Homo sapiens: one gene and its partner. The protein of the gene in region 1 interacts with the protein of each later gene in a pairwise test. Each region holds a gene or a part of one and is shown on either strand. Other genes may lie near its edges. The genes, in order: EFNA3 and PRSS23.

Region 1 (4,291 bases):
CGGCGGCGGCGGCGAAGGTTTATTGATCTGCAGCGGCGGAGAGGAGCGAGAGACCTGCCGAAAGCGAGACACAGAGACGGAGTGAGGGGGAGACACACACCGACAAGGGGAGGGTGGCAGAGGCCGGATTCACTGAAAGGGGAAAGGAAGGGAGACACAGTGCGAGAGAGACGCAGAAACCGAGAGAGGCAGGGAAGAGAACGAGAACCGAGAGTCTTGGAGAACAGGAGAGACAGGCAGGCCAGAGAGGCCCACAGACGGCGGAGACGGAGACAGAGACGCAAAGGAGAGAAGCAGGGACAGGGAAGGGTGCAAGGCTGAGACTCAGAGACTGGGAGAAAACACAGAGAAAGACCATCAGGGACGTAGTAGAGCCTCAATAAATATTTGTTGAATGAATGCATGAATGAAAGAGAGATCAGCAACAGAAGCATTTCAGAGATAGGTCGAGAGACAGCTATATAGAAAGATGTTCCCGAAGCTCCTTGAGAACGGAGCAAATACCAACATCCTTGCTCAGTTCTGCAAAGAAATGAAACACAGGCCAGGGGGCATATATTTGGCCATCGGCCGTCCCAACCCCCCTCACCAAGTTCGATTCCCGGCTTAGGGGACTCCTCGACCTCATACTCTAATGCATCGCTCCAATACAGTCCCCCCATCCCTAGTTTCTGGGCCAGATTGGGAACAGGTCTCTCCTGTTCCACGGGACTAAATGGAAGTACTGAGTGGGGGGCAGAGGGCTAGGTCGCGGCCGGTGTGCAAGGCACAGTCCCCAGGTCTGTCAAAGGAGGCCGACGCACGTGACCCCCCCAGGAGGCGGGGTCGCAAGACCCTCCCCACGTGACCCCAAGGGGCAGAGACCCTCCGCACGTGACGGGAGGTGGGAGCCAGGAGCCCAGCTCACGTGACTAGGGGGAGGGGGCGCGGGAGCCTGTGGCTCGGTCGGCCCCGCCCCCAGCTCCCCGGCCCTCTCCATTCTCGGCTCCGGAGCACGTCGCTCTCACGATTTATGGGGCCGCGGCTGCCGCAGTGAGGGAGCCGGGGAGCCCGGGCGCAGCGGCAACAAAGGCCCGGGAAGCGAGGCGGGGGCGGCGGCAGCCTCCTGGCCCGGTGTGCGCCCCCTCCTACCTCTGCCGGCCCAGGCCCGCACGGAGTAGAGAGGACAGAAAGGAGGCTCCCGGAACCCGGGCTCCCCCACCCGCTCCCTGAGCTTTCACCTGCGCCCAGGTGTATGCGGGGGAGGGGAACCTGATCAACACCTCCCCCCACCAAACCTATTCCCGCATCCTCCCCGGCTCTGGCTTCCCCTAAGAACGCTGAGGTGCTCCAAGGGTGGCGGGGAACCCGGGGCCCCTCACCTGCGAGCTCTCCGTTCCCCGCCAGACTCTAGCGGGGTGGGGGGCGGACGTGTGAGTCTGGGGGAGGGGGCTGAGCTAGATAGAGCTGGAAAGTCAGCCCCCAGCGCCCCCCGGAGTTCTTGGAGTCCCGCTCCGGGGGGGAGGGGCCACGTCCCCACCCCCGAGGTTTCCATGGGAAGCGAGAGGGGGGCGTCGTTGGCTCATCCCCACCCCCAGTCTGACACTCCGGGCGCGAGGAGGGAGAGAGGGGGAGGCGCGGAGCCCCAAACAACAAAGAGCGGAGCGGCGAGCGGCAGCCCCTCCTCCGAGAGGTTGGGGGTCGCGGCCGCCCGGCCCTCCCGGTCCCCTCCCCTGGGGTCTGGCCATTTGCTCCCTGGTCGGTCGGTCCCTGGGGTGGGCAGCCAGAGGCAGTGCTGCCGCCACCGCCCGGGCAGGTGTGACAGTGACCCCCGCGTCCCCAGGGATCTCCCCCTACTAACACACAGACACACACTGATGTGGCCAGGGAGATACACACGGCGGCTTGGCGGGGAGGAGAAGACAAGGGCAGCAAGGACTGAGCAGAATGAGGACCCGGCCCCGCAGCCAGCACCCGGCCACCGCGCCACACACCCCGGGAAACCACACGGCCGCCCTGACACCCGCCCAGACCGCGGCGGCGCCAACAGCCACCCCAGCCCAGACGCAGCTGGCCGCGCGGACAGCGACCGCAGCCCCTTCCCCGACCCGCAGCCCGCTCCCACCCCCAGACGATCGCCGACGCAGACACACAAATCACACACTCAGACACACACGCACACTGACAGCCGCGCACGCCCGCTCACACTTGGAGCCATTCGCCGTCCCCAGCCCGGGCGTGTGTGTGCGTGTGTGACACACCGACATCTCTCTGCCGCCTTCCGTCTCGCCGGTACCCCACGTTCCCATCCTAACCAAGCAGCATTCCCAGGGCCCCCCAACTCAGCGACCCAGCCCTAGCTCACCCTAGCCGGGCTTATCCACACAACCAAGACAACCCATTCGCCTTCCTTCTAGGGAGGTGCTCGGTCGGACTCCCTGCCTCAGCTCTGGACCCCACTTTTAAAAGCAGGAGTCCTAGACAGAACCCCTGGAAGCCCTCATGGCCAAAAACAGGTCATCCCTGGGCCCCAAAATGCAGCGGCCTATCCCCAGCACAGCGCTACCCCCAAACCCCAGCCCAACTGGTGGGACTATGGGACAGGGGCATGCTATTCCAGCGGCGGGTGCGGAGAGAAGCCAAGATGGGGTGGGGGGCCCCTCCAGCAGCCTCCTCCACACGGCCCGAGCGCTCCTTACTATAGCCCAACAGCCTCTTCAGACACCCCCGAGTTTCCTAGACGCCCACAGAGTGCGTCCCCCTCTCCGTCCCCTCCCAGCCCCCAGCTCTGGTCTCCCAGGACTCCCACCCCGGGATCCCCCAGGACTTCTCGGGCCCACCGGCTCCCCCTCTCACTGAGACGGGACGCGCGGACTCCCAGGGTCCCCGACTCACTGCTGGTTGGAGCTGTTCCAGTACACCGCATGCCGGTTTCCCAGCGCCCCTCCGGGCCCTTGGGCCAGCAGCGGCAGCAGCGGCACGGGCACGAGCAGCAGCAGCAGCAGCAGCGGAGCCGCCGCCATCCCCGGAGCCGCCGCCGCCGCCGCCCCCCGACTGAGCCCCGCGCTCCCGGCTTCTCCGCTTCCCAGCTCCCTGCTGCCGCCGCCGTCGGCCCCCAGCCTTAGGCCACGCCCCCAGCCCTTCCCTCCGCCCTCCTGGGCGCGCCCCCGAAGCCCCGCCCCTGGCGCGCCCCCGACAGGCCCCGTCCCGCTCCGGTCGGGAGCGCGCGACGCGTGGGAGGTGGGGACCGTACTGCCCCCTCGGGAAAGACCAGCGCGTGCCTCGTCTCTCCTTCTTGAGTTCAGTTTGCTACAACTGGTCCTGGGTCTTTTGCTCCCCAGGCTGAATTTCCCAGAAGGATTTGGGAACCCAAGATAAGGATCTCGATCTCAGGGAAGCCCAATCATCTCTGGGAATGAGGGGAAGGAGAAGACTTGAGAAGAAGTTGGGGATCCAGGACCTCTTAGTAAGTAGGGCTGGACCCCTTCCCTTCTGAAAACTGTGGCCCTCTGCTGCGTCCATGCCCCCTTTTCCCGTGTGCATGAGGACTCAGGTGGGCACAGAAGGGTGGTGGAGAAGTCCTCAGCTGGCACCAAGGCTTTGACAGCTGGTGACCTGAAGCCCCCAGCTGAGCATGAGGCTTGTTTATCTTGGAGGCAGAGTAAAAGAGCTCAGCCCCTGAGAATGTCAATACTGGGAGCTGTAAGAGTCTTCAGTGGTCCAGAACCCAAGGCGCAGGAGGGGGTCAAGGAGAGAGTCAGCTGGGGCAAAGCAGGGTTCCCTGGACACCTACAAAGGATTCCTCACTGGCACTTAGGCAGGGCCCCTCCCGGGGCAGCCAGGGTTGTCCCCAGGGATTCTCACTCCTACTCTCAGAGACGCTGATCCTGAGTCAGAGGGCAGAGCACCTTGTGTTCCAGCTCTCACCACAGTCATTGTCCTCACAGTGACACCCAAGCACACACATCACACACACACATTCAGGAAAAAAGGCACAGTCACCCAAAGGCAGAGAACATAGAGACACAGGTGCCTGACACAGACATATGGACACACAGGTACACCTTCCAGACACACATAGGAAAGGGTACTATCAGACTGCTAGAGATCAGGCACAGAGACACCCAAGCACACACCTATATCCATCCACACACAACACACACACAAACCCACATGCATCCTGACACACACAGTTCCTTGCTCTCCTCTTCTCTCTTTCTAGGAAGTAGAAGTTCAGGAAAAGGGTTCAGAAACCAGACCTAGGGCTATCTGTCCCTTATCTCTTCTCTTTTGGAGAGGCCCAGACCAGGCG
Region 2 (3,807 bases), on another chromosome or scaffold:
ATACCCTTTCTCGAGTGCACCATCATTTAAAAACCACAGGAGTGGTGGTAATTGTGACACTGTGGAGCTGTCCTTCTTTGATGTCTCAGTCACTCAGTAAGCCATGTAATTTAAATTGACCCTCTGAGTGACCAAGTTGCTCTGAAAATTTTCCAAGTACATGTTACAATGAGAATGAGAGAAGGAGGAGGGAAAGGCGGGGACATCATGAAGGTAGAAGAGGAGGAGGTTTAGAATCAAGCACAAAGAGGGCTCAAAATTACGTGGAAATTGGGGCTGGTCAGTCAGTTAGCCAGGGGACTAATGACTTTATGCCTGCTACTCTGCAGTCTACCATCATTAGGGACATCTTAAACATAGAAAGGAAGGAACACCCAATTTCACTTCAGGCACCCAGCCACAGGAACTTTCCTAAGGTTGAGCCTTTGCGTTGAAAGTGAGACCGTTATCTAAGGATTCCTCTCCACACCCTGATTCCTGAGGAGTGTTCAAAGACTCAGAAACAATGACAGGCCTGCTGCTGAGCTTTGCTGTCTGCAGTAAATGAACGTTCAGCCCTTGCCCTCCTGACCTGCTTGTCTTTGTTTCTACAGAACAGTGCTCGGCATGGCAGGGATTCCAGGGCTCCTCTTCCTTCTCTTCTTTCTGCTCTGTGCTGTTGGGCAAGTGAGCCCTTACAGTGCCCCCTGGAAACCCACTTGGCCTGCATACCGCCTCCCTGTCGTCTTGCCCCAGTCTACCCTCAATTTAGCCAAGCCAGACTTTGGAGCCGAAGCCAAATTAGAAGTATCTTCTTCATGTGGACCCCAGTGTCATAAGGGAACTCCACTGCCCACTTACGAAGAGGCCAAGCAATATCTGTCTTATGAAACGCTCTATGCCAATGGCAGCCGCACAGAGACGCAGGTGGGCATCTACATCCTCAGCAGTAGTGGAGATGGGGCCCAACACCGAGACTCAGGGTCTTCAGGAAAGTCTCGAAGGAAGCGGCAGATTTATGGCTATGACAGCAGGTTCAGCATTTTTGGGAAGGACTTCCTGCTCAACTACCCTTTCTCAACATCAGTGAAGTTATCCACGGGCTGCACCGGCACCCTGGTGGCAGAGAAGCATGTCCTCACAGCTGCCCACTGCATACACGATGGAAAAACCTATGTGAAAGGAACCCAGAAGCTTCGAGTGGGCTTCCTAAAGCCCAAGTTTAAAGATGGTGGTCGAGGGGCCAACGACTCCACTTCAGCCATGCCCGAGCAGATGAAATTTCAGTGGATCCGGGTGAAACGCACCCATGTGCCCAAGGGTTGGATCAAGGGCAATGCCAATGACATCGGCATGGATTATGATTATGCCCTCCTGGAACTCAAAAAGCCCCACAAGAGAAAATTTATGAAGATTGGGGTGAGCCCTCCTGCTAAGCAGCTGCCAGGGGGCAGAATTCACTTCTCTGGTTATGACAATGACCGACCAGGCAATTTGGTGTATCGCTTCTGTGACGTCAAAGACGAGACCTATGACTTGCTCTACCAGCAATGCGATGCCCAGCCAGGGGCCAGCGGGTCTGGGGTCTATGTGAGGATGTGGAAGAGACAGCAGCAGAAGTGGGAGCGAAAAATTATTGGCATTTTTTCAGGGCACCAGTGGGTGGACATGAATGGTTCCCCACAGGATTTCAACGTGGCTGTCAGAATCACTCCTCTCAAATATGCCCAGATTTGCTATTGGATTAAAGGAAACTACCTGGATTGTAGGGAGGGGTGACACAGTGTTCCCTCCTGGCAGCAATTAAGGGTCTTCATGTTCTTATTTTAGGAGAGGCCAAATTGTTTTTTGTCATTGGCGTGCACACGTGTGTGTGTGTGTGTGTGTGTGTGTAAGGTGTCTTATAATCTTTTACCTATTTCTTACAATTGCAAGATGACTGGCTTTACTATTTGAAAACTGGTTTGTGTATCATATCATATATCATTTAAGCAGTTTGAAGGCATACTTTTGCATAGAAATAAAAAAAATACTGATTTGGGGCAATGAGGAATATTTGACAATTAAGTTAATCTTCACGTTTTTGCAAACTTTGATTTTTATTTCATCTGAACTTGTTTCAAAGATTTATATTAAATATTTGGCATACAAGAGATATGAATTCTTATATGTGTGCATGTGTGTTTTCTTCTGAGATTCATCTTGGTGGTGGGTTTTTTTGTTTTTTTAATTCAGTGCCTGATCTTTAATGCTTCCATAAGGCAGTGTTCCCATTTAGGAACTTTGACAGCATTTGTTAGGCAGAATATTTTGGATTTGGAGGCATTTGCATGGTAGTCTTTGAACAGTAAAATGATGTGTTGACTATACTGATACACATATTAAACTATACCTTATAGTAAACCAGTATCCCAAGCTGCTTTTAGTTCCAAAAATAGTTTCTTTTCCAAAGGTTGTTGCTCTACTTTGTAGGAAGTCTTTGCATATGGCCCTCCCAACTTTAAAGTCATACCAGAGTGGCCAAGAGTGTTTATCCCAACCCTTCCATTTAACAGGATTTCACTCACATTTCTGGAACTAGCTATTTTTCAGAAGACAATAATCAGGGCTTAATTAGAACAGGCTGTATTTCCTCCCAGCAAACAGTTGTGGCCACACTAAAAACAATCATAGCATTTTACCCCTGGATTATAGCACATCTCATGTTTTATCATTTGGATGGAGTAATTTAAAATGAATTAAATTCCAGAGAACAATGGAAGCATTGCCTGGCAGATGTCACAACAGAATAACCACTTGTTTGGAGCCTGGCACAGTCCTCCAGCCTGATCAAAAATTATTCTGCATAGTTTTCAGTGTGCTTTCTGGGAGCTATGTACTTCTTCAATTTGGAAACTTTTCTCTCTCATTTATAGTGAAAATACTTGGAAGTTACTTTAAGAAAACCAGTGTGGCCTTTTTCCCTCTAGCTTTAAAAGGGCCGCTTTTGCTGGAATGCTCTAGGTTATAGATAAACAATTAGGTATAATAGCAAAAATGAAAATTGGAAGAATGCAAAATGGATCAGAATCATGCCTTCCAATAAAGGCCTTTACACATGTTTTATCAATATGATTATCAAATCACAGCATATACAGAAAAGACTTGGACTTATTGTATGTTTTTATTTTATGGCTCTCGGCCTAAGCACTTCTTTCTAAATGTATCGGAGAAAAAATCAAATGGACTACAAGCACGTGTTTGCTGTGCTTGCACCCCAGGTAAACCTGCATTGTAGCAATTTGTAAGGATATTCAGATGGAGCACTGTCACTTAGACATTCTCTGGGGGATTTTCTGCTTGTCTTTCTTGAGCTTTTTGGAAGGATAATTCTGATAAGGCACTCAAGAAACGTACAACCACAGTGCTTTCTTCAAATCATATGAGAAATACTATGCATAGCAAGGAGATGCAGAGCCGCCAGGAAAATTCTGAGTTCCAGCACAATTTTCTTTGGAATCTAACAGGAATCTAGCCTGAGGAAGAAGGGAGGTCTCCATTTCTATGTCTGGTATTTGGGGGTTTTGTTTGTTTTTGCTTTAGCTTGGTGAAAAAAAGTTCACTGAACACCAAGACCAGAATGGATTTTTTTAAAAAAATAGATGTTCCTTTTGTGAAGCACCTTGATTCCTTGATTTTGATTTTTTGCAAAGTTAGACAATGGCACAAAGTCAAAATGAAATCAATGTTTAGTTCACAAGTAGATGTAATTTACTAAAGAATGATACACCCATATGCTATATACAGCTTAACTCACAGAACTGTAAAAGAAAATTATAAAATAATTCA

What was found.
Region 2: the proteins of EFNA3 (region 1) and PRSS23 interact in a two-hybrid assay, tested with the Homo sapiens proteins (one large-scale study listed by BioGRID and IntAct).

The regions. Positions count from the first base shown.
Region 1 is NC_000001.11:155,077,653-155,081,943, reverse strand, and holds the start of EFNA3 (ephrin-A3 precursor), read right to left. Parts: upstream 3,108-4,291; 5' UTR 3,003-3,107; coding exon 2,875-3,002; intron 1-2,874. UniProt on the Homo sapiens protein: Cell surface GPI-bound ligand for Eph receptors, a family of receptor tyrosine kinases which are crucial for migration, repulsion and adhesion during neuronal, vascular and epithelial development.
Region 2 is NC_000011.10:86,807,038-86,810,844, forward strand, and holds part of PRSS23 (serine protease 23 precursor), read left to right. Parts: intron 1-593; 5' UTR 594-606; coding exon 607-1,758; 3' UTR 1,759-3,807.